Linked DNA regions of Homo sapiens: all the other regions are linked to region 2. The links come from fine-mapping of genetic effects on gene expression. A gene starts in region 2. Each other region holds a variant in brackets. All regions are shown on one strand. Distances are between the middles of the regions.

Region 1 (5,000 bases), 110 kb after region 2:
TAGAGATGAAACTGGCAGGAAGGGTGGAGCCTTTCCGAGAAGGAAAGTGCAGAACCTAACCAGATAGGCAGTGACAGCTGAGGCAGATGGAAGTTTAAGAGGCAGACAGCCAGGTGCAGTGGCTCACGCCTGTAATCCCAGCACTTTGGGAGGCCAAGGAGGGTGGATCACGAGGTCAGGAGTTCAAGACCAGCCTGGCCAAGATGGTGAAACCCCCATCTCTACTAAAACTACAAAAATTAGCCAGGTGCAGTGACAAGCACCTGTAATCCCAGCTACTTGGGAGGCTGAAGCAGGAGAATCGCTTGAACCCAGGCCGCAGAGGTGGCAGCGAGCCGAGATCGCGCCACTGCACTCCAGCCTGGGCGATGGAGTAAGACTCCGTCTCAAAAAAAAAAAAAAAAAGGAAAGAAAGAAAGAAAAAGAAAAAAGAAAAAAAAGGAGGGGTGGTGGTGGTGAGGGGGACCAGATCTTGGAATAGACAGAAACTTTGACAAATGGTCCAGAGGCCCGGCTGGGCTGGGCTGAGCAGAGTGTCAGGGCGAGTACCCATTGGGTAGGAGAAGGAAGGCACACCTTTTCCATGCTAACGAGCGCACTGAGCAAGTCTTGCTGTTGAGACATCTGGCGGATGTCCTTGGATGACGTAGTCTCCAACGACCCGCTCGTCGACGAGCGCCTGTTCAACACCTCTGACTCCTGCTCCTGGTTGAAGCGGATTGCGCGCACCTCCTCCACAATCCTGGGGGTGGAGCAGTGAGTGCCTTTCAGAAGGCCTCAGGGGAGGGAAGCAGCCCTCCCACCTCTTCCCTGGCGTCACCCCCGCTTCGCTCTCCCACGCAGCCCTGACAGAGACCCAGGCCGAGCTGTGCCCTTGTGTGAGATGGAAGGAACCTGGAGTCTGGATTCCAGTTCCTCCACCAATAGGGTGGGGGACCTCTGTGGGGCCCAGGCTCTGCCTTATAAATGGTGAGGGCGTGAGGCCAGAAGACTCTGACGCTCCGCCCAGCCTTGACTCACATGACTTGGGGGCAGCCCCAGTACCCTCCCCTACATGTTGAGTTCATCTCGGATCTCCTTGTACTGCCTCAGGTTCTCCTGTATTGCCTCAAGCACCAAGCAAAAGTTGTCACACGTGTTTTCTGAGAGGTTCGACAGGGGGCCTCCCGCAAGGGGTTCCTGGAGGAGACCAGATTTCTCCGAGCGGGCGACCACACAATGCACCAGTGGCAGCTGGTCATTCTCCTCCTCTTCCTCTGCGCCTGTCTGGGAAGCGGGGGATAGAGAGGGGTCGGGACAGCTCAGGCAGGCACGCCCCCGGCACCCTTTTCCTGCTTGGCTTCAGGATGAGTCTCTTAGGACCCCAGGGTTCTAAGGCCCTCATTTCAGCTCTCACCAATCTTAGCCTCACTGCCTTGCTGGGGGAACCCAACTTTAAATGCACATGACCTCCCCCCACCTCTTTAAAAATTCTCACCCCATTTCAAAATTTAGCCCTGCCCCAGATTTCAACCCTGATAAACCCTACCCAGCAAATTTATAAAGCCCTGCCTACCCTCAAGCCCAGGCCTCCAGCACTCCACTCTTTTAGAAGTACTCCACCCCTTTCCCCAACCTTATGGAAGTACTGCCCTGAATGAATAATACCGTAGCTAACATTTATTGAGTGCTTACTATGCGCCAAGCACTGTTCATTTACCCATTAACCCTCATAAAATAACCCTATGAGTTAAGTACTATTATTATTCCCATTTTACAAAAGAAAAAAATTGAGGCTTAGAGTGGGTAAATGCCCCAAGGTCACCCAGCTGCTCAGTTTTGAGTTGCCATAGAAATCTAACATCTAGAAAATCCACACCCCTCAGAAGCCCCAGTTGGTGGGTGGGCACTCAAGATGGGGGGCTGCTGCCTCCAGGCCTCCAACTTGGCTTTCTCCAGGCCCTTGATTATGCAAGCACACACATACATGCACATATGTTCAAGTCCGCTCTCATACACACTCCTTTTCCTCCCTTCTGCCCTCCCCATCCCACGCACCTCACTAAAGGTTATTCGTTGCTGTTGTCCCTGCTCTCCTGCCTTCATCATTTGCTCCAGGTTGGTGGTCACCACGATGACGAACAGGTTGATGCCAATGAAGGCACCGATGGTGATGAAGATGGTAAAGTAGATGGCACCCCCAATCTCCATTGCATATTCCCTCTTCTCTGTCCTGCAGATGGCAGGCAGGGGCCCCATCATTTCCCTGGCCCTTCAAGCCTGAGTTTCCTTGTCATTGAAATGGGAAAATCATCCCAAGGCCTACTAGAACTTCTGCCTGTGTCACTGCTGTTGTGCAGATCCCATTCCCTACTCCTGTCTCAATAGCTGCTCTCTACTAAGCACCTACTGTGCTGCCAGACAGTGAGCTGATTCTCTAACCAACCCTGCAAGGTGGGGACGTGCACATCAACACTATTAAGTTTAATCTATTAGCTACACTCCTTTTTTTTTTTTTGAGATGGAGTCTCGCTGTGTTGCCCAGACTGGAGTGAAGTGGCGTGATCTCGGCTCACTGCAAGCTCCACCTCCTGGGTTCATGTCGTTCTCCCGCCTCAGCCTCCCAAGTAGCTGAGACTACAGGTGCTTGCCACCACGCCTGGCTAATTTTTTTTTTTTTTTTTTGAGACAGAGTCTCACTCTGTCACCTAAGCTGGAGTGCAGTGGCGTGATATGGGTTCACCGCAACCTCCGCCTCCCAGGTTCAAGCGATTCTCCTGCCTTAGCCTCCTGAGTAGCTGGGATTACAGGCGCCCCACCGTCCGGCTAATTTTTGTATATTTAGTAGAGACGGGGTTTCACCTTTTTGGCCAGGCTGGTCTTGAACTCCTGACCTTGTGATCCACCTGCCTCAGCCTCCCAAAGTGCTGGGATTACAGG[T/C]GTGAGCCACTGCACTGGGCTTTGTTTTTGTATTTTTAGTAGAGATGGGGTTTCACTGTGTTAGCCAGGATAGCCTTGATCTGACCTCGTGAGCTGCCCACCTCGGCCTCCCAAGGTGCTGGGATTACAGGCGTGAGCCACCGCGCCCGGCCCCGGCCAGCCTGATTTTTATCCACTACCTATGCCATAATGGAGAATGACTGTAGAAGCCCTTTATCTACTGGGCTTCTATACTCACATGTAGAAGATAAAAAGAAATCAGTTAAGGGGTCCCACTTTCTGGAATAAACTGGAAAGAAATAGGGCTTAGACTTAATAGAAAAGAGGTAAAGAACAGAACACAAAAATGAATGTGGGCAGTGGGTTTAAGAATGAATGAAATGAGACCTGAAGTTCCCAGGAGTTCAGGCAGTTTGGTGGGCTCCAAGGTGGGCTGGGAGGTTGCTCTGTAACCTGAGGCATAACTGCAGACCTGCTGCCTTATCCAAGGCCAACTACCCAGCTGGTTAGCATGATGGGAGAGGTCCCCATTACAGGGTGGGAATGGGACTCTGAATATATGGAGATTCAAGGGTGACAAGGCTTCAGGTATCACAAGTCCAGGTATTTCCTTTTCCTCTGTTTAAAGACCTGGGAACCCCCACTTCTACTGGGCCATCCTCATCCCAATCCCTGGAGCTCCCACTCTCAGCCTGGAGCTCCACCGGCTACCCTGCCCCATAGGTGGGATGAGGCTGGAAGTCCCACTGGCACTCACTGGAAGTCACTGTAGATGTCCACCCAGCCGTCCTGGGTGATGCAGATGAAGAGGGTGTACAGCGCAACCTGTATGTTCTGGAAATGCTTGGGCACGAATGCACCAAAGAGTGTTACTCCAAACACGGAAAAAACCTGTCAGAGAGAAAAGAGCCCCACCCCGACTTCACCAAAGGGCCTGGAAATAGGACACACAAATGTCATGTAAATGAACGCTGCTGAGGAAATCACAGGGATTCAGGCCCACAGGCCTCTCTGCTTTTCCAGACACCCCTCTATTTGCAATGACCCAAGGGCCCTGTTCAGGGAAGGGAAACAGCTGGGGGCGGGGGCAGGCACTGACCAGCATGAAGAAGAGGATGAGGACCATGATATTGGCCATGTCAGGCACCGACTGCAGGATGACGCGGATGATCCGGGCGAGGGGCTCCACCGCCATGCACACATGCACCAGACGAAGCGCCCTGTGGCAGAGCCTGTCAGGGGTGCCCCTAGGCCCTTCCCAGCCCCTTCCCTCCTCATTACCCCCACCAGCTGCCCAGAGAGGCAAAGCTGATCTCCAGCTGGTCGTTATCCCCCCATCTCATTCCTGGGTTCCAGATAGGTCCCCCTCATTTCTCCAGAGCTCCCCGCTCACCTGAGAGTGTAGTTGATGGAGGGAATATTGATTTCATTAATGAAGAACCGCAAGAGCAAGATAAAGACGATAATGAAGTTGAGGATGTTCCAGCCGTCCTGGGGAGTGGGCCAGCCCCAGTGGGGTCTGTCAGGCCCAGCCCATGGGGGCATCCTAGGTCTGCCCTCCCCACATCCCAGGGATGAGGGCTCAATGTCCCTCTCAGAGCAGGGCCAGTCAGCTGCCATCCACTGCTGTTACCCTGCCGCCCCCCAAACAAGCCACAAAACACACGTGTACTCTCTGTCCCATACATGTGTCAATAGCCAAATGCAGTCTCAGAGACACACAGCAAAGACCCTTACAGATACATGGCTGGTCCCTAAGCTGAGTGCCCACCTTGGCTAAAGCATGCTCAAAACAGCCTTGCCCTACAGGTAGGTAACATGAAAACACTTGGCTGTTCCTGCCTTTGTGTGACACACACTACAATTAATAATAAAATGAAAATGGATACTAGTAAAAACATAAGGAATACTGCTTCAGTAGCCAGTTCTGAGGTGAAATAGCTCTCACGGCACAAGAAAGGGAGACAGGCGGGCCAGGCGCGATGGCTCACACCTGTAATCCCAGCACTTTGGGAGTCTGAGGCAGGTGGATCACGATGTCAGGAGTTTGAGACCAGCCTGGCCAACATGGTGAAACTCCA
Region 2 (8,786 bases):
TAATAAGGCTCTGACTTTCCCAATAAATGTTATTTTTTTAAAAAAAATCAAACCAGAAGGGCACGGTGGCTCACACCTGTAATCCCAGCACTTTGGGAGGCTGAGGCGGGTAGATCATGAGGTCAGGAGATAGAGACCATCCTGGCCAGCATGGTGAAACCCCATCTCTACTAAAAATACAAAAATTAGCTGGGGGTGGTGGCACTTGCCTGTAATCCCAGCTACTCAGAGGCTGAGGCAGGAGAATTGCTCGAACCAGAGAGTTGGAGATTGCAGTGAGCTGAGATCACACCACTGCACTCCAGCCTGGCGACAGAGTGAGACTCTGTCTCAAAAAAAAAAAAAATCAATTGACTCGGGACAGGGCGCAGTGGCTCACGCCTGTAATCCCAGCACTTTGGGAGGCTGAGGTGGGCGGATCACAAGGTCAGGAGACGGAGACCACACTGGCCAACATCGTGAAACCCCGTCTCTACTAAAAATACAAAAAAATTAGCTGGGCATGGTGGCGTGTGCCTGTAGTCCCAGCTACTTGGGAGGCTGAGGCTGGAGAATCGCTTGAATCTGGGAGGTGGAGGTTGTGGCGAGCCACGATCGTGCCACTGCACTCCAGCCTGGTGACAGAGCAAGACTCAAAAAAAAAAAAAAAAAAAAAATCAAACGACTGGCCTGCCAGGTTAGAGGGCTCCCATTTTCCTCCCAGGAAATAGATGTTTACTGAGTGTCTGCCTGCTGCGGAATCTACAGCCAGGCCCTGGGTGGGAAGAAGGGATGGGGTAAATCCTGGTGCCTGGGTAAATGCCACTCACGATCTGGTTCTTGCTGAGGCAGGAATCAGAGGGCAGACCACAGCAGGGCTCATGAGACCAGAGCTCCTGCTTCCCACGCTTGCTTATCTCCATGAGCAAGGTGACAGTATGAAGTTGCTACTCACCCTGACCATGGGTCCAACCTCAAAAAACACTTGGCCCCGACATGATCTCAGTCTTTCTCATCTTCATATACCTAAAACCTCAGAAAACTTTCTGGGAGCAGCTCAGCAACAAGAGAGCTCTTCCTATGTCCACTCTCCAGTCACACTTTCCGCCCAGACTCCTCCCTTGGCAGTAGGTCTGTACCACCTTCTTCCTTGGCTTATCTATGCCTGCCTTGTTTACCAGAGTGAAAGTTTCTAGGAAGAGCGTGGACTCTTGAGGCTGACCGTTCTGGGTTTGAATCCACTTCTGCTTCCTGCCTTTATAATCTTATGCAAGCCGCTGTACTACCCTGAGCTTGTTTTCTCATCTGTTTTTTTCTTTTTTCTTTTCTTTTCTTTTTTTTTTTTTTGACAGAGTTTCACTCTTGTTGCCCAGGCTGGAGTGCAATGGTGCGATCTCAGCTCACCGCAACCTCCGCCTCCCAGGTTCAAGCGATTCTCCTGCCTCAGCCTTCCTGAGTAGCTGGGATTACAGGCATGCGCCATCATGCCCGGCTGATTTTGTATTTTTAGTAGAGACGGGGTTTCTCCATGTTGGTCAGGCTGGTCTCGAACTCCCGACTTCAGATGATCCGCCTGCCTCAGCCTCCCAAAATGCTGGGATTACAGGCGTGAACCACCACGCCCGGCCCTCATCTGTAAATTTCATGTTACCATCTGGTACTTGGCACTCAGTAGTAGTAGCTCTCTTTAGCTTCCAATTTGCATATAAAGAATGCTGTCCACTTTGGGAGGCAGAGATGGGCGGATGGCTTGAGCTCAGGAGTTTGAGACCAGGCTGGGCAACATGGCAAGACCCCGTCTCTACAAGAAAATACAAAAACTAGCTGGGCGTTGTTGTGCACACCTGTAGTCCCAGCTACACTGGTGGCTGTGATGGGAGGATAGCTTGAGCCTGGGAGGCGGATGTTGCAGTGAGCAGAGCCTACCCTTCCCTGAATGTGGTAGGCTAGAAAGTCAAACGGAAAATTAAAAAAAAAAAAAAAAAAAAGCAACAGAAAAACACTCTTGGGTTGTGCAGAGAAAGGGCTTTTGAACCTGGGCACAAAGAAGTGAGTGCCTGAGATCAGAAATCATAAACTCCCAGACCATCACAGCTGAAAGGGTGAAGAGATGATGATGATGATTAACAGCAGGAAACGTTTTTGAAAAAGTGCTCTCTACAGGTGTTTCTGTTTCGGCTTTCCCCTTTAAAATCGTGTACTTTGCATTACCTTATTTAATCCTCACGGCAACCCAGTGGGGGTAGGTATTATCACTGTTTTACAGATATAAAAACTAAGGTGTATAAAGTGCCCAAGAACACACAGTAAGGAGCCAGGACTCCTAATTCCAAAGTTCGTGGTCTTAACTGCCTTTAGCTGTTTTGGTGACTGAGTCTAATCCAACACAATTTTACAGATGAGGCTCTGGGAGGGGAAATTGTCTTACCCAACTCTTAACACAAGGGAACTAGAATTTGGGCCGCCCTTCCGGGCGCCAATCTGGTCAAGGATTTGTCACAGAAACTCAGATTTAGGAAACATTTATTAAGTACTTGCATCATTGCAATCCATCCTCAAAGCAGCCTCCGTGAAGTATTACAGTACTTCGTGTTACAATACTGATCATATGGGGAAATAAGCTAAGAGGGATAATTCCTCCCAAGATCAATTTAGCAAAATAGCGGCACTGTCGGGATCACACATTCAGGTCCTGAATGTGAGGCTGCCAGCAGTTTCATTAACCTAATCCCAGGCTCCTTCCTCCCGCACCTGAGGGTAGGAACGAACCACCCCCCCCCCCCACCCCGCCCCGGACCTGGAGCCCTCTCAGAGCGGTGCATTCTGGGATTCGCCCGCGAAGAATACCGACTCTGTGGGCCAATAGAATCCGAGCACAGGCGACTGTATCCACCTTCGCTGTCTGCAGGTTGCTCAGGCCTCCCTCAAACTAGCCAATGAGAAGTGCACGGGTCCTGGTCGCCTAGGAAACCGCGTGACAACAAGATGGCGGCGCTGCGGGACGGCTAGCGGCCCTGCGTGGTGAGTCTGGCTTAAGACCTTTCTGCCCCTGGAGTCCCCACGCAGGCTGGAGCCCGAGCCCCGAGGGCCTGCGAGCTCCGCGGCTCCCACAGGAGAGGTTCAAGACCCTGCTTACCATGACTACGCGTGGAGGCGGAAGGAGGCGACACGGCCTCCAGGGCTGGGTTAGATCGTGATAGACGTCGCTCCCTGAGCGCGTCCTGGGGGCATTAGGGAGTCCTGGCAGCGGGCCGGACCGTGTCCCCGCCAGAGCTCTGGGCTCTGGGGATGACGGAGAGGCCGAGGAGGTGTGAAGAAGAATGTTGTGAGTCAAGCACAGCACTGAGTTTGGTTCCAAAGATGTAGAGGCATGGTGCAGAGATTTGCTCTCAGAGCCAGGTCTGAAGTGGGTGACAACTCTGCCTTAAGGACCTTTTGGCCTGAGGGGTAGTCACAGTCCTGCCCTTGGAAGCCCCAAAGTGAAGGAGTTAGGCGACTGTCCTCAGGGCTCCCTAATCTGAAGGAGAAAGAGATATGCCCCTGCCCTCAGGAGTCCCCCCAAACGGACAGGGAAATGCAGCCTTTGCCTTCAGGGGCCCTTGTAATCTGGGAGAAGATTAACCTGGAGACAATGTGTCGGACTGGACTGGAGTGACACTGGAAGTAGGGAAGTCAGTTGGGAGCCATGTGACAGCCCCCAGAATGGGCAGTGAGAGTCCCACTAGGACGGCCGACGGTGGCCATGGAAAGGGGCAGCTATATGTGAGAGAGTTTAGCCTGCAGGGTTTGATGTAAGAGGCAAGATGGCGTAAGAGGGAAGGAAGGAGAGAAAAAATGTGGTTGGGTGATGGGGTCCCATTAAGAAGGGGGAAGTGGGAGGAAGTGAGTTTGACGAAAATGTTGGATTTGGTTTAGGAGTTTTGTTTTTTTTTCCCATGACAGCTTTATTGAGATATAATTCACGTATTACATACTTCACTCCTTTAAAGTGTAAATTTCAATTTTTAGTATATTTTAGTATATATTCCATTTATATGAAATGTGCAGTGTGGGCAAGTCTATAGAACAGAAAGTAGATTTGTGGTTGCCTAAGGCTGCCTTGGAAAAGGGGTGGGGGCTGGAGGGTAAATTGGGGGTGACTGCCAAAGGGTACAGGGTTTGTTTAGGCTGACGAAAATGTTCTAAAATTGTGATGGTAGTACAGCTCTGTGAATATACTAAAAAGAAAATTACACTGTAAGAAGGTGAAATATGTGAATTATATCTCAAAGCTGTTTTATGAAAAAGGTTGCATACTGTATAATTCCATTTGTGTAACTTTTTTGAAGTAAGAAAATTATAGAGATGGGCCAGGTGGGGTGGCTCACGCCGGTAATCCTAGCACTTTGGGAGGCTGAGGCAGGAGAATTGCTTGAACCTGGGAGGCGGAGGTTGCAGTGAGCCGAGATTGCGCCATTGCTCTCCAGCCTGGGCGACAGAGCGAGACTCCATCTCAAAAAACAAAACAAAAAAAGTATTGAGGGGAGCTGGGTGAAGGATACAAAGGATCTTTCTGTACTATTTTCCTAATTTCCTGTGAATCTATAATAATTTTCAAATAAAAAGCTAAAATATAAGTGAAAAACAAACTGAAGGGGAAAAAAAAGAGTTAGCTGGCCAAGGGAAGGGTGCAGGTAGGAGTGGGGAGACCGTTCTGGGAGTGGGGGGATTGAGGTTGAGGCAGGGGGGATACACATGCATTTGAGGCATTGCTAGAAGTTGAGGTGGCTCAAGTGTGGGAGGCGGCAAGATGGGAGATGAGGTCAGGAGACATAAGCAGGGACCAGGTCACCTATATCAAGGAATTATGAATTTTTTTTTGAGATGGAGTCTTGCTCTGTCACCCAGGCTGGAGTGCAATGGCGCAATCTCTGCTCACTGCAACCTCCGCCTCCTGGGTTCAAGCAATTCTTCTGCCTCGGCCTCCCAAGTAGCTGGGATTACAGGTGCCTGCCACCAAGCCCGGCTAATTTTTGTATTTTTAGTAGAGATGGGGTTTTGCCACGTTGGTCAGGCTGGTCTTGAACTCCTGACCTTAGGTGATCCACCCTCCTCGGCCTCCCAAAGTGTTGGGATTATAGGTGTAAGCCACCGTGCCTGGCCAGAATTTTGAATTTTTTTCTGTGGGTGAGAAGTGCTGGGATTATAGGCATGAGCCACCGCTCCCGGCCTGCTTTATGTTTTAAGATCTCTCTGGTAGCACATGGGAACTAATGAAGGGAGCCTTGGCCATACAACCCGTGAGGCTGCCCAGACAGGGCAGGGGCTGGGGCAGGGTGGGGACAGATTTGGGAGGCTGGATGCTGGGGGTGAAGAAACTCTGGGCCTGATCCTTGAGGAGGGCTCCTTCCAAGGAAGGGGCAGGGCATGATTCTCAAACTCTGCAGTGAAGGCATTGGAGGCTGCCTCCAGGCAGCATAGATTCCCTTGCTGACTGACTTCAGAAGTAGGGTTGAGGCCAGAACCAGACATCTTCAAAGTGGAACTTCTTGGATTTGTCCTAAAAAATTTGGTCCAGGCTGGGTGCAGTGGCTCATGCCTGTAATCCCAGCACTTTGGGAGGTCGAGGGGGGCGGATCACCTGAGGTCATTTACTGAATAGAGTAGTAGCCTTCGATTATGTCCTTCAGGTGCACTCCTTTTTCCAGAAGGAAGAGGAAAGGAAAGGAAACTAACATTTACGAGTGCTTCCTATGTGGCAGCAACAGCAAAAACAACAGCAGCCCCAACTCACATTTTTCAGTGCTTCCTTTGAGCTTGGCGCTGGGCTAGACCTTCTCTGTTATCTCTGAATCTGCTCAGAACCCTGCCTGTGCCAGTACTATTACGACCCCCATTTTATACTAAAAGAAACTGAGGGTGGGTTACTCCAGTGAGTGGCAAAACCTGGCATCTTAACCTTGGTGTCACATGGACTGTGTCTTTTTTTTTTTTTTTTTTTTTGAGATGGAGTTTCGCTCTTGTTGCCCAGGTTGGTTGGAGTGCAATGGTGCAGTCTCATCTCATTGCATCCTCCCCACCTCCTGGGTTCAAGCGATTCTCGTGCCTCAGACTCCCAAGTAGCTGGGACTACAGGAGCACGCCACCACGCCCAGCTAATTTTTGTGTTTTTAGTAGAGACAGGGTTTCACCATGTCGGACAGCTGATCTCGAACCACTGACCTCAGGCGATCCACCCACCTCGGCCTGTGTCTTGATTGAATCCTGCCTGTGGGTTGGCCTCTCTGGCTCTGAGATGTTGGGAGTGGCACCTGGTTTCTGGTGGGAGGGAAGGAGATACTTGGGCTTTGTGTCACCCAGCTGGCTGATGGACGGACAGCCTCCTGGGTAGTAGCATTTTCAGGCTCTAAGTTTGGGAAAGTTCCAGGCTTCTGACTCATTTCTGCATCCCATCCCACCCTCACAGTACTTTCCCAAGCACCACCAGGCCAAAGGTCTCTCAGTTCAGAGCAGAAAGCCGTATACCCAGAGGAGCAGGCAGATAACAGAAACTTCCAGAAACCTCTGTGGAGACAGTGGAAGAGGCAAAAGGTACTGCTGCCTAGACAGCGCTTCCCATTAGGAAGAGTAGCCAGGGAAGTGGAAACTTCAGGCTACCCCCTGGGCTTGGAGCCCTGAGTCTGTCCCCAGGGGCTGACTTCCTGCATTCCTCTAGGGAGTTCCTGACAGCTGGATTCTAGAAGTAGAACTATGAGCTCACCTTTGGCCTCCCTTAGCAAGACCCGAAAAGTGCCCCTGCCCTCGGAGCCTATGAATCCTGGGTAAGGAGCCAGCCTCAGGGGTCTTTCTGTCCCCGCCTCTGTATCCTCTTCTATCCTTCCATGGCCAGAGGACAGTGACTCCTAGTGTCTTGGGGAATACAAAGAAGGGCCACATAGCCTTCCCTGACCACTGTCTTTTTCTTTATACCTTCTTCTGGGGCACCCAACTTTGGATCTGAGCATAAACTGGGTTGTGCTTTTAGTAAGGTATGGGCCCTGTAGGAGTGGCTTGGCATCCCATCTGTTCATTCACTGTTCATTGATTAATTCTGCAAACACAGATGGTCTACGGACCTATCCTGGGCCAGGCCCTGTGTGGGGTTCAGTAAAGGGAATCTTTTACATCTGTCTAGCACTTTCATGTTTTCAAAACATTTTTTACCTCTCTTCCTTCTTGCTCTCTGGAATACCACTTTGAGTCTTTTTTTTTTTTTTTTTTTTTTTTTTTTTAAAGACCAAGTCTCGCTCTGTCGCCCAGGCTGTGGATTGCAGTGGCACGATCTTGGCTCACTGCAACCTGTGCCTCCTGAGTTCAAGCGATTCTCCTGCCTCAGCCTCAGTAGCTGGGACTACAGGCGCATGCTATAACACCTGGCTAATTTTTTGTATTTTTAGTAGAGACGGGTTTCACTGTGTTACCCAGGATGGTCTCGATCTCCTGACCTCGTGATCTGCCCACCTCGGCCTCCCAAAGTGCTGGAATTACCAGCCACCGCGCCTGGCCCCACTTTGAGTCATTCTAAGGCCTAGAAGATTCAGAGAGGTTAAGCAACAGGCCTCACAGCCTTTGCAGAGCAGAGCTGGGGCTGAGCTCATGGGCTTTGCAAGCCTTGTAGTCTTCCCACCTAAGACTCTGCTCTTCACCCCTTCCCCATCCTTCTCCACTGGGTGAAGTCAGACACCTCGAAGCCTGTCCCTTGTCTCACCCCAGGCTGGGGCTGGGATTTGGGGCTGGAAGTCCTCAGGAGTTAGAGGCCCTGCTTCCATCTCTTTGAGCTTTGGCTGAAGTCCGGTGCCCAGAGCCTTATCCCTGGTATCATTCCAGGGGCCCTAACTTATATTTCTTCCTTCTTCCTGCCTGGGTTCCCAGGAGGCGAGGAATCCGCATCTATGGAGATGGTAAGTGTGCCCCGCCCTCGTGCCCTCTTCGCCTCTCATGTGCTTGCACCTCCTACAGTTGGACCGATGGAGAGAAATCACACGAGAAAGGCCCTTGTCAGCTGGAGCAGCGGCCTCCACCGTGTTCTGTGCAGCTCCCATGCTGTCCTCCCTGAGGGCTGGGCTTCCCTCCTGGAAGCTCTCAGATTAGGAGGCCCCATACCCTTGGCACAGATGTTGCCACTCACATTTGAACCCCTTGACCCACTGTGGGACTGGCCAGTGTGTGCCTAGAAACCAAGTGAGGGCCAAGAGATTACCCAGCCCAGGGGTTTGGATCCCAGCCCCCCTTCCCCCTCCAGCCTCCTCCAGTGTGACAGCCTTTCTCCCGGGAGGCCTGTCCACACATTGCCACCCTGACTCTTGTAGCTCAGGCCTTTGGATCCCTGCCCCCCAACTCTCCACCATGGCATTGGCATTGGCCATGCCAGTCCCCCTGGGAGCAGGACTGGAAGAACTCCAAAACAGCCCCATTCTGGTTGGATCCTTGCTCCCCAGCCTTGTGAATTCTCTCTCCTCAAACTCCCTGGGGCACAGTGCATAGGCCGCGTCACACTGGCGAGGGCCCAGGGCCTGAGTTTCCTCTGGGTCTCCGCCCCAGAGCGGTGACCTAGGCATCCCTGTCTGCAGAAGATGAGGTGGACATGTTGAGTGATGGGTGTGGCTCAGAAGAAAAGATCTCAGTCCCTTCCTGCTATGGCGGCATAGGTGCCCCTGTGAGTCGGCAAGGTGAGAGCAGAGGCCTGAAGGGTCTGGGTCCTGGCTGCAGGAGGGGGCCCCAGAGACGGGGCAAGGCCTAGGGAGGCATGGCCCTTCCTCTCGCCTGTTTGGTCTGAGGCAGCTGCTTCC
Region 3 (10,884 bases), 66 kb after region 2:
GCAGTCTCAGCTACCTAGGAGGCTGAGGTGGGAGGATTACCTCAGCATGGGAGGCTGCAGCGAGCTATGATCATGCCAGTGCACTCCAACCTGAGTGACAGAGTGAGACCCTGTCTCCCCACCCCCCAACAAAGTTGTTTCAGATAAGATAAAAAGTAGAAATTTAGATAAAGGGACCAGATGTGAGAAGCACAGGGTAAGAAGAATGAGAGACTCCTTGAATGAAATGGAATGACGTTATGAACATTCTGGAAATAACACAATCTGGAAATGCCAATATACCCAAAATGCAATCTGAAAATGAGAACACATATTGGTAATCAAATCATTAATACAAACTTACCCTCCGCAATATCTGAGCATGATGTACCAATGGCTGTGTCCCCACTGTCGGCTACACTTGAACAGCGGCTGAAGCGGCTCCGAAAGGGCTCCGAGATAACTGGGGTCTGCCATTCAGTCCCCAGGGAACTGCCCTTCTGAATCACATCGGAACCTGAAACAAGAGGCATTTCCCACCTTTACTGTGAACCAGCTGATGTAACCCCATCAGATCTTTTTTTAAAAAATCACATAAACCTAAGAGAATAGCAGCAACCCACCCCTTTCTCTCTCCTGTGCCTATTTCAGCTGCTCCGATCTAGTTTTTTTTTTTTTTTTTTTTTTTTTTGAGACGGAGTCTGCTCTGTCACCCAGGCTTGAGTGCAGTGGCGCGCAGCTCACTGCAGCCTCCACCTCCTGGGTTCAAGCAATTCTCTGCCTTAGCCTCCCGAGTAGCTGGGATTACAGGCGCCCACCACCACGCCCAGTTAATTTTTATATTTTTAGTAGAGACGCGGTTTCACCATCTTGGCCAGGCTGGTCTTGAACTCCTGATCTCATAATCCACCCGCCTTGGCCTCCCAAAGTGCTGGGATTACAGGTGTGAGCCACTGCGCCAAGCCTGAGCTAGTTAATTTTAAGTGGAAATAGTATGAGAAGTGAGAATATTCAAAGATGTTAATAAGACCCATGAAGAATCCAGGAGTACTGGAACAGAAAACAATCATATTTAATAGCAGTGGCCATTTATTGAAACCTGTAAAGCCACAGGACCTTACAAACATAATCTTGCCTACCTACTTACTGAAAAGTATTACCACCCCTATTTTACAGAGGGGAGGGCTGATATTTGAATCCAGTTCTTTCTGATTCCAAAACCCACATTCTTTCCTCTTTCTTACAGTTTCTCAATGGTGCTTTTGGCATTCTGGGGATGACCATTCTTCAATGTGTAGTCTATACATTACAGAATGGTTTAGCATCCCTGGTTCCCACTCACTGAATGCCAGCAGCAACCCTCAACCAAGACCACCATCACTGTGAAACCAGAAAATAACCATATAGTTCCAAATGATTCCTAGGGCAACAAGCAGTCCAGTCCCCAGTTGAAAATCATTGCTTCGAGGTTGCAGTGAGCAAAGATTGCGCCACTGCACTCCAGCCTAGGCAACAAGAGCGAAACCCCATCTCAGAAAAAAAAAAAAAAAAAAAGAAAATCACTGCTTCACTGAACCAGGGTACCCTCAATAGGTGAATCCTATTGAGATCAAGGTGAGTTTTGAAAGTCAATCTGAAGAGCCTAGGGCTTTATCTTGAGAGCAACGTGAAGATATCACTAAAACTGCTGAGAAGGTTAAGACAAAAAGACTGATGAGATTTATTTGATTTAAAATATGCTGTTTGGGGGGAGGTAGGTAGGAAGTGTTCAATAAATACTTGATTCACTAACATTCTAGCAAAGACTTAAATTTATTTTCTAAAAACCACTATAATTTTCCTAAGGTGTATCTGGTGATCCATGTAAACAAATAAACAAACAAACAAAAAAACTAATGGCAGCTACTTATCCTCCATTTAACTTAAAGTGTGAAAGCCGATTTCAGAAAATACGGTTCTACAGACTCGCTGATCTAGTGGGAGGCAAATGATTGCTCCCACTAAATGATTACGCCCAAAGTAATTTGGACACAAATTACTTTATTCCTTTCTTCCAAGTTTAGTGCTTCTCTCATCTTTTTAATCTATTTTCTTCTACTTTTGCTCATTTTTTGCTACCCTTACTTTGGCTTTCTACTGAAGGCAACCTGACTTTCCCCAAATACTTCTTCTATTCTTTGGATCACAGTGACTGCCTGATTTGAAAGAATCTTTATACACTCAGTAATCTGTAATTGTTATAGAAGACACAGGCAACAATCCGAGTTTCTGAGCGGCATGAGATTAGCCAATGCTACTATACTAAGTTGGTGTAATTCTAGCCCAAAGCAAAGAAATCCCACCTTCTGGTGAGTCTACACAGCTTTTTCTCTCTAGTCAGTGTAAAATTTGCCAGGCCTTTTGAAACAGTTAAGATTGAGGGCCTCTATTACCATCTTCCTGACTTCCTACTGGAAACCGCTTCCCTGTTACTACTACTAATCTTCCACTCTTCATCGCTACCATTTTTCCATCCACCTACTCCATACCCTAATTCCAAAGAGTTATTTGTTAAAAATATATTTTGGTATATTTATAGAGGTTTACACTTATTTCAAAATTGAAGTTTAAATGCTGAAGTTGGCCGGGTGCAGTGGCTCATGCCTGTAATCCTAGCACTTTGGGAGGCGGGGGTGGGCAGATTACCTGAGCTCAGGAGTTGGAGACCAGCCTGGGCATATGGCGAAACCCGTCTCTACTAAAAATACAAAAAAATTAGCCAGGTGTGGTGGTGCATGCCTGTAATCCCAGCTACTTGGGAGGCTGAGGCACAAGAATCACTTAAACCCAGGAGACAGAAGTTGCAGTGAGCTGAGATTGTGCCACTGCACTCCAGCCTGGGCCACAGAACAAGACTCCGTCTCCAAAAAAAAAAAAGAAAAGCTGAAATTTTTTGTGTTATAGTGCATGTCCTATCAGTAGCATCCTTATCAATTATTAAGACCATTATTAATCTGAATGAGATACTATTGAAGAGAGAAAAAAGCCATAGGAAAGGCATTGTTCCAAAAACTTGCATTATATACATAATTGTCATAGAAACTGTACAAACCTAAGAGAATGTGCAGCACATAGCAGATGTTTAAAAAATATTTCCTGAGGCCGGGTGCAGTGGCTCACGCCTGTAATCCCAGCACTTTGCGAGGCCCAGGCGGGCAGATCACAAGGTCAGGAGATTGAGACCATCCTGGCTAACATGGTGAAACCCCGTCTCTATTAAAAAATGCAAAAAAATTAGCTGGGCATGGTGGCGGGCACCTGTAGTCCCAGCTACTTGGGAGGCTGAGGCAGGAGAATGGCATGAACCCGGGAAGCGGAGCTTGTAGTGAGCCGAGATCACGCCACTGCACTCTAGCCTGGGTGACAGAGCGAGACTCCATTTCAAAAAAAAAAAAAAAATTCTGCTGAATGAATCTTGAATTGATTCAACCAAAGCTTATAATGGTGCCTACTCTATGCAAGGCAGCATGCCTAAGAGAATACACCAAACATTTACCAAATATCTACGCTGAGTAAGGCACTGTGAGATTTTAAAGTTAAATAAAACATACCCTGAGTTGAATTAAACGTGCCCTCTTCTTTACCAATACCCCAGAATTCAACAAGTCATTTTTCTAAAATATTACTTATTTGAAATATATATTATCTACTTAATATGCCTGCACAGTGCATACATATATTTATGTGTTTAATATACAGTCAGCTCTCCATATCCATGGTTTCTTTTTTTTCCCCTTTTTTTTTTTGAGACACAGTCTCACTCTGTTGCCCAGGCTGGAGTGCAGTGGCGTCATCTCAGCTCACCTCAACCTCTGCTTCCCGTGTTCAAGTGATTCTCCTGCCTCAGCCTCCCAAGTAGCTGGGATTATTATAGGCACATGCCACTGCACCCGGCTAATTTTTGTATTTTTAGTAGACATGGAGTTTTACCATGTTGGCCAGGCTGGTCTCAAACTCCTGACCTCAGGTGATCCACCCGCCTTGGGCTCCCAAAGTGCTGGGATTACAGGCATGAGCCACAGCGCCTGGCCATATCCGTGGTTTCTACGTTTGTGAATTCAACCAATTTTTTTTTTTAATGGTATCTTACTGAATGTGCATAAGACTTGTTTTTCTTCTTATTCCCCAAACAATACAGTATAACTATTTACATAGCATTTACATTGCATTGGGTATTACAAGTAATCTAGAGACGATTTAAGGTAAACATTAGGATATACACAGGTTATATGCAAATACCACACCATTTTATATCAGGGACTTGAGTATCTGTGGATTTTGCTATCTGCAGGAGGTCTTGGAACCAGTCCGCCATGGACACTTAAGGACTGTATATATTTAATATATCTACTGAAGTTTCAAAATCTTGTTAATCCATTCTGAAGATAAATTCCTGAGTTTCTAGTAACAATGCAACGGAATCTGTTGGCATCCAAGCAGAATTCCTATTTTTGTGGGCTAGCAGATGACTGACCCACCCAGAGGACAAAGACAACATAGAACACAGTAATTTATGCTGTGTTTTTCTGATTTCAAATGGAACTATGTTCCAAAGTCATTCTGTTCCAATCCTTTATATGTCGTCCTCTCCCAACCACGTGGTCCTGTTGAAAGCCACATAGCACAAGAGATAAATACTTGTTCCCTCAGAGACCTGTTTTTATATTCAATGAAGCCCCATGTTATTTTTATTCTTTTAGCACCAGCATTTCAGTGAATGCTTGTTTGTTCAATATTTACCTTAAGGAATATGAAAAAACAGAACAAAGGTCAGAATTTAACCCAGAAAACTTCTGACTACTCACTCGGTGAAGTGACGTGAGAGATCCCCTCAGTTGGATATTTCTCCTGCATGGCCATCAATCACAGTTATTTAAGCCAACTGTAGAATGAAGGAATAACCAGTCAGTTCTCTGAAGTATCTTTAATTCCCCGCAACTCAGTTCC[C/T]ATTCAACTGAAACTGTCAAAACCATATAGAATATTCAAGTATTTGGCCAGGCACAGTGGCTCACACCTGTAATCCCAGCACTTTGGGAGGCCAAGGCGGGCAGATCAACTGAGGTCAGGAGTTCGAGACCAGCCTGACCAACATGGGGAAACCCCATTTCTACTAAAAACACAAAAATTGGCCGGGCATGGTGGCACACATCTGTAGTCCCAGCTACTTGGGAGGCTGAGGCACAAGGATTGCTTGAACCCGGGAGGCAGAGGTTTCAGTGAGCCAAGATCACACCACTGCACTCCAGCCTGGGCAACTGAGCAAGACTCCATCTCAAAAAAAATAAAAAAGAATATTCCAGTATTCTAAATGTTATATTCCTAAGGATATTTAGGAGTAAATATGTTTTTACATGTTTTACTTCTAAGGATATTTTTAAGACAAAGTAAATCCCAATACTCCACTCTACTTCTCTTCCCAAATCCAGTATAGAAAACCTAGAACCAGAGATTACCAATACAGATTCCATACGGTCCTAGAACCCTTCTGATTTTTATAAAATTTAAAAATATTACTTTTAATTAACAAACTTTACCATGAATCTTCTTAGCCATGGGGACCTGATGACAGGACGAGGTGGATAAAGAACTAAAGAACTAAACCAACAGTGAAGTATTACAGCATCAATTATGATTAACACAAAACAAATTCCTCAATTCTTCCAGTAATTAAAGTCAGTCATACGATGTAAAAAGATGGGAAAGAATTCTTGCTCATAAGTAGAACTCCAATCCTGAGCTAGGAACGTGAAGTTCTCGTCCCATGTTCTCACTCCTTAAAATATTTATATTTACAGTACACTAGGGGTAGGTGCTGAGAATTCAGCAGAAGTGGATTTGAAGTCTAAACAAATACACTTGAACCCACTAAACATTAAGTTATCAATTTATTAGCTGTGTAACCTTGGGCAAATTTCTTAGTATCTCTGTTCCTCATTTTCTTCATATAAAAATGAGGATAACAACACAACCTAATTCATGTTAATTCACTTATAATTAACTTACAACAGTTCCTGACACATACTAAGTGCTGTTATTACTTGGCAATTTACATCAACAAAAGTAGCACTGTACAGCCCATGGAAGATCAAGGAGTATCAACTCAGAAACTCTAAATTTATAAAAGCCCCAAAAGAGTTTGGGACAATTCGGCCGGGCTCAGTGGCTCACGCCTGTAATCCCAGCACTTTGGGAGGCCGAGGCAGGCGGATCACCTGAGGTCAGGAGTTCGAGACCAGCCAACATGGTGAAACCCCGTCTCTACTAAAAATACAAAAATTAGCCAGGCATGGTGGCAGGCGCCTGTAATCCCAGCTACTTGGGAGGCTGAGGCAGGAGAATCGCTTGGACCATGGAGGCGGAGGCTGCAGTGAGCCAAGATCGCGCCATTGCACTCCAGCCTGGGCGACAGAGCAAGACTCCGTCTCAAAAAAAAAAAAAAAAGAGTTTGGGACAATTCACAGAACATAATTCTATCACTCTGGAGAAAAAAGACTATATGGTACTATTTCTCTAATGTACTTTAGTGACCTCTATAGTATTCTCTTGTTACTAAGAGAATACTATAGAGGTCACTAAAGTACATAACAACCCAAACCCTTATTAATTCACTGCATCTACAATAGAAAGGGTATCATCCTCCACAATTCCAGTTCTTCACATACTGGGTGAGGGAAGCTTTGTTCAGTAATAAAAGCTTTAGTTTATGGCAAGTATGATTCAGTGAGTTAAATGATGACATAGAATGATTAGATTACCTCCTTACTAGTGATTTCCTTTCTTGTCAATATCAAAATCCTTTTCTTCACTCCTTTCTTTAAAGGATAACAAAATGGTAGGCGCACTGGATTCTAAGGTGTTTCTAAATTCAGACAAGTTGAAAATACGGTGACAGAAGGAGAACTCCGAGTTACCCTATGACTCAGCAATTCCACACTGAAGTATACACCCAAGAGAAATGAAAACACAGGTTTACACAAAAGCTTCAATAAGAATGTTCGTAGCAGCATTATTTACAATAGCCAAAAAGTGGAAACAACACAAACGTCCATGAGCTAATGAATGGATACATAAAATGTGGTATATCCAAAAAACAGAGTATTATTCAGCAATAAAAGGAAGTACTGATACATGTGACAACATGGATGAACACTGAAGACATGCAAAGTCAAAGAAGCCAAACAAAAGGCTTGATCCTATTTATATGAAATGTCAGAATAGGCAAATCCATAGAGACACAGATTAGTGATTGCAAAGGACTGAGAGGAGGGAGGGTAGGAGAATAGGAAGGGACTGCTAATGGATACCGGGTTTCTTTTCAGGGTGATCAAAATGTTCTGAGATTAGATAGTGGTGACTGACTGCACAACCTTGCCAATATATTAAAAACCTCTGAATTGCACACACATAAAATTAAATTTTATGTTATGTGATATAAGCCAAAAAAAAAATTCTAAGACATCCCCAACCACCTGAATGGATCCCTCCCCTTGGCCAATGGCATTCCAAAGTTAAGCTGAAAAACCTGTTAAGGCCATGATGGTGGTAGTGGTGGTGGAGTCCTACACCCCTCATTATACCCTCCTCCCTTCTGGAATTTAGGAAAAGCATTAACATTAACACAGATGTCTGTAAGAAACATTTATAATCTATTCTCTCTAAAGCCTACTATTTGGAGGCTTCATCTGTACAATAAAATGTTGATCCCCAGGATACCTTAACCCAGACATTCCTTTCTATTGATAACAACTTTCAACCAACTGCCAATCAGAAAATTTTGAAATCTACCTATGACCTGGAAGCCCCCACCCACTAAGAGTTGTCTTACCCTTCCAGATCAATGTAAATCTTACATGTATTTGACTGATGTCTCATGTCTACCTAAAATGTTTAAAACCAGGGCACACGTTATCAGGATCACCTGAGGGCTGTGTCAGGGGCCACTGGTCACCCATATTTGGCTCAGAATAAATCCCTTCAAATATTTCAGAGTCTGACCCTCATTGACAACAAATATCTCAAAAAAGAAAAACAGAAAGAAAGAAACCCCGTAAGGAGTAAAACAATACAAAATAAATCATTCTTGACTTAAGAATTAGATGAGCTACTGGTGGAAATTTTTGGGACAACTGAAGGAGACAGAAATTTCCTGGGATAAAAATGAGAGAAGTGAATGTACAAGAAGTAACACACCAGTTATAAAGCTTAGAAAGGGAGTGAATGGAGGCAGACAGAGGGGAAAAAAAAAAAAAGCACCCAACAGGATTGGTTTCCATCTTCAAAGCCCTTTAAACTACAGAAACAGTCACTCATTCAACAAATTTAACATGCATTCTGCACTTACTACCTATCAAACACTGTGCTCAACACTTTTTAAGTATCATGTCTCATGTTTCATGTTCACATCAACCCTATGAGGCAGTTACTATTATCCTCATTTTATGGATGAGAAAATAAAGGTTTACAGTAGTGAAGGTCATATGGCTAGGAAGAGGCTTCAAAGCCAGGACTGTACTCTAACGCTACAGTAGTCTAGTCAGCATTCTACATGTGACAAAACACAAAAAAAGAGATCAAGCATGGCACCACAAGTTGGAGTTTCTGCCTCAGACAGCTAGAGCTGCAAGCCTCAATTATATGAGCAGTAAAAGCTCATAAAATTTCTTCACTTTGTCCTTGGTCATCACCTAGGCTTTATTTCTCAAGTTGCTACCCAAGAATTAGATTTTGACTGCCGTAAGTATTTTTCCCCTATAAGAATTACAATCTAAGTGTGGCCGGGCGTGGTGGCTCACGCCTGTAATCCCAGCATTTTGGGAGGCCGAGGCGGGCGGATCACCTGAGGTCGGGAGTTTGAGACCAGCCTGACCAACATGGAGAAACGCCGTCTCTACTAAAAATACAAAATTATCCGTGCATGGTGGCGCATGCCTGTAATCCCAGCTACTCGGGAGGCTGAGGCAGGAGAATCGCTTGAACCTGGGAGGCGGAGGTTGCGGTGAGCCGACATCGCGCCACGGCACTCCAGCCTGGGCAACAAGAGCAAAACTCCGTCTCACAAAAAAAAAAAAAAAAAAAAGAATTACAATCTAAGTGTGGAACATCATGCTTGGCAGCTGTTAAGAGAACCACATCAAGACAAGAGAGGATTTGAAGGGATACACAGACAGCTGACACAGACACACGAAGGATCTCACACCATTACACTATTTTCACCGCCTTGATCATTCATTAAACCTTGTGAAAGAGAAGCCAAATCCTTGACAAGAAGTTGCCTTTACAAAGAAAAGTCGTGAGACATACAAAACCACCAGATCACTATAAAGCAGACAAGGTTTGAGGGCAAATAAATGAGGCCTGGCTAGCTTCATCGTCCTTGTATCACCACCGCCCCCTACTTATCCCAGTGTTCAATTCATCAACCGAAATTTACTGCGTGCCTACTATGCGCCTGGCTCTGAGCCACGTGTTGGGAATGTACTGGTGTAAAGGATCGCTCTCATTAACTGAGGTGAAGTAAGCGTTGAATATACTGTTGAACAAATAAACCTGAACACACTAACTTTCAGTTCAACCAAAGCACCAGCTCCTTCTCGCTGAAGGAAGCTTCCTCACCTTCCGCCCTACTGACATTTTGGGGGATTTTTCTTTGTTGTTGGGGGCGTCCTACACACAGTAGGCTGTGTAACAGCATCCCTGGCTTCTTCGCACTAGATGCCAGTAGCAAGCCCTGGAGCTGTGACTATCAAAAGTGTTTCCAGACATCGACCAATGTCCCCAGGGAAGCAAAATCGCCCCGGCCGAGAAGTACCGGGGTAAGGCCCCGCCAAGTGCTTTCCGTCCCACAACCTTAATTCTCTACACAGCCTTCCAATCTCGGCTCAAACTTCTCCTCCTCGGGGAGGGCTCCCTGACCTCTCCGACTAGATCCGCGCCTTCTGTTTTGCGCTCTTTGTAAGATTTCTCCACTCTACCCTCACTGCGCGCCGAGGGATTACCCCGCTTAACGTCGACTCCCAGGGCTGTGCGCTCCGCAAGGGCAAGGAATGCGCCGCTCGCTGTGTCCCTGGCTATCGGCACAGGGCCTGGCACGCAGGTAAAGTGACTGCCGTGGGGTGAACCACGGACGGCAAAGCAAGGCAACGGGGGAAGCGAGGGGAATGGGACGCGAGAGGGCGTATGCCGGGGCACTGGCTTCGGAGCCGAGGCGCATGCGCTTCGCTCTCCCCGGCCCCTCACGGTGGCAGGTCGCGAGCGTCTGAGGCTTCGCCGGAGCTATGGGAGGAGAGGCAAGGTCGGCCACTAGGACTGAGGCTCCCGAAGGAGGAAAACTTACACGGGCCTGAAAGCGGGCGGCGAAATCCCTCACTCGGGAAGACTGACTGCAGCCACCACGTCTGCGGTGAGCGGTGGTTCCCTCCCTCAGCTCCTCTAACGGCCGTTGCACGCCCGCCAGGCCGCGCGCCACAGAACGCGCGTCGTTTGGCCCCACCCCGTTCTGCCGCCTCTGGCCAATCGGGAGTCGAGCCGCGCCGGCTTCCCGCCCCTTTCTATCCTCTTCTGACCAATCGGCAGCCGAGCCGCGTCGGTATCCCGCCCCCACACGCTACCCTCTGCTCAGAGAGCCGGACGGATCTTTCTGCGCATGACCACGTCGCCACTTGGCTCCTTCTCTGCCCCTTGCCGCGTTTTACCTGTAGGTGGAGCTCTGCTCACCTAGACCTGGAGGGGCCCTGCTGGGCCTGTGCAGGTTGGGAAGCTGGCGGCCCGCGGGCGGGGCTGGGGACACGAGAATCCCACTCAGCTTGCCTCACCCTCCTTCCATTCCAACGCCGGTCTATCAGTTCTCACACCTGAAGCAGGGGTTCA

The links.
Region 1: its variant is fine-mapped to the expression of UBXN11 in whole blood (TOPMed, PIP above 0.99).
Region 3: its variant is fine-mapped to the expression of UBXN11 in whole blood (TOPMed, PIP above 0.99).

What each region holds. Positions count from the first base shown.
Region 1 is chr1:26,197,096-26,202,095 of GRCh38, reverse strand. It overlaps CATSPER4 (cation channel sperm associated 4), which reads right to left. Exons shown (of 10, transcript NM_198137.2): 4 at 4,313-4,410; 5 at 4,019-4,139; 6 at 3,677-3,810; 7 at 2,038-2,212; 8 at 1,055-1,266; 9 at 577-742. Among named protein-coding and RNA genes, the nearest start is that of CATSPER4, 9.0 kb to the right of the region's middle. RefSeq lists enhancers at 1-641, 3,625-4,124. The variant T/C (reference allele first, on the strand shown) is at 2,920.
Region 2 is chr1:26,300,806-26,309,591 of GRCh38, reverse strand. UBXN11 (UBX domain protein 11) reads left to right here and starts at 2,956. Exons shown (of 15, transcript NM_001389556.1): 1 at 2,956-3,000; 2 at 6,674-6,779; 3 at 7,870-7,898; 4 at 8,568-8,666. The coding sequence starts at 6,709. RefSeq lists enhancers at 2,626-2,715, 3,116-3,165, 5,849-7,048.
Region 3 is chr1:26,233,778-26,244,661 of GRCh38, reverse strand. CEP85 (centrosomal protein 85) reads right to left here and starts at 10,462. Exons shown (of 14, transcript NM_001319944.2): 1 at 10,352-10,462; 2 at 4,824-4,900; 3 at 344-496. The coding sequence starts at 4,878. RefSeq lists enhancers at 9,594-9,643, 9,734-9,793, 10,114-10,263. The variant C/T (reference allele first, on the strand shown) is at 4,966.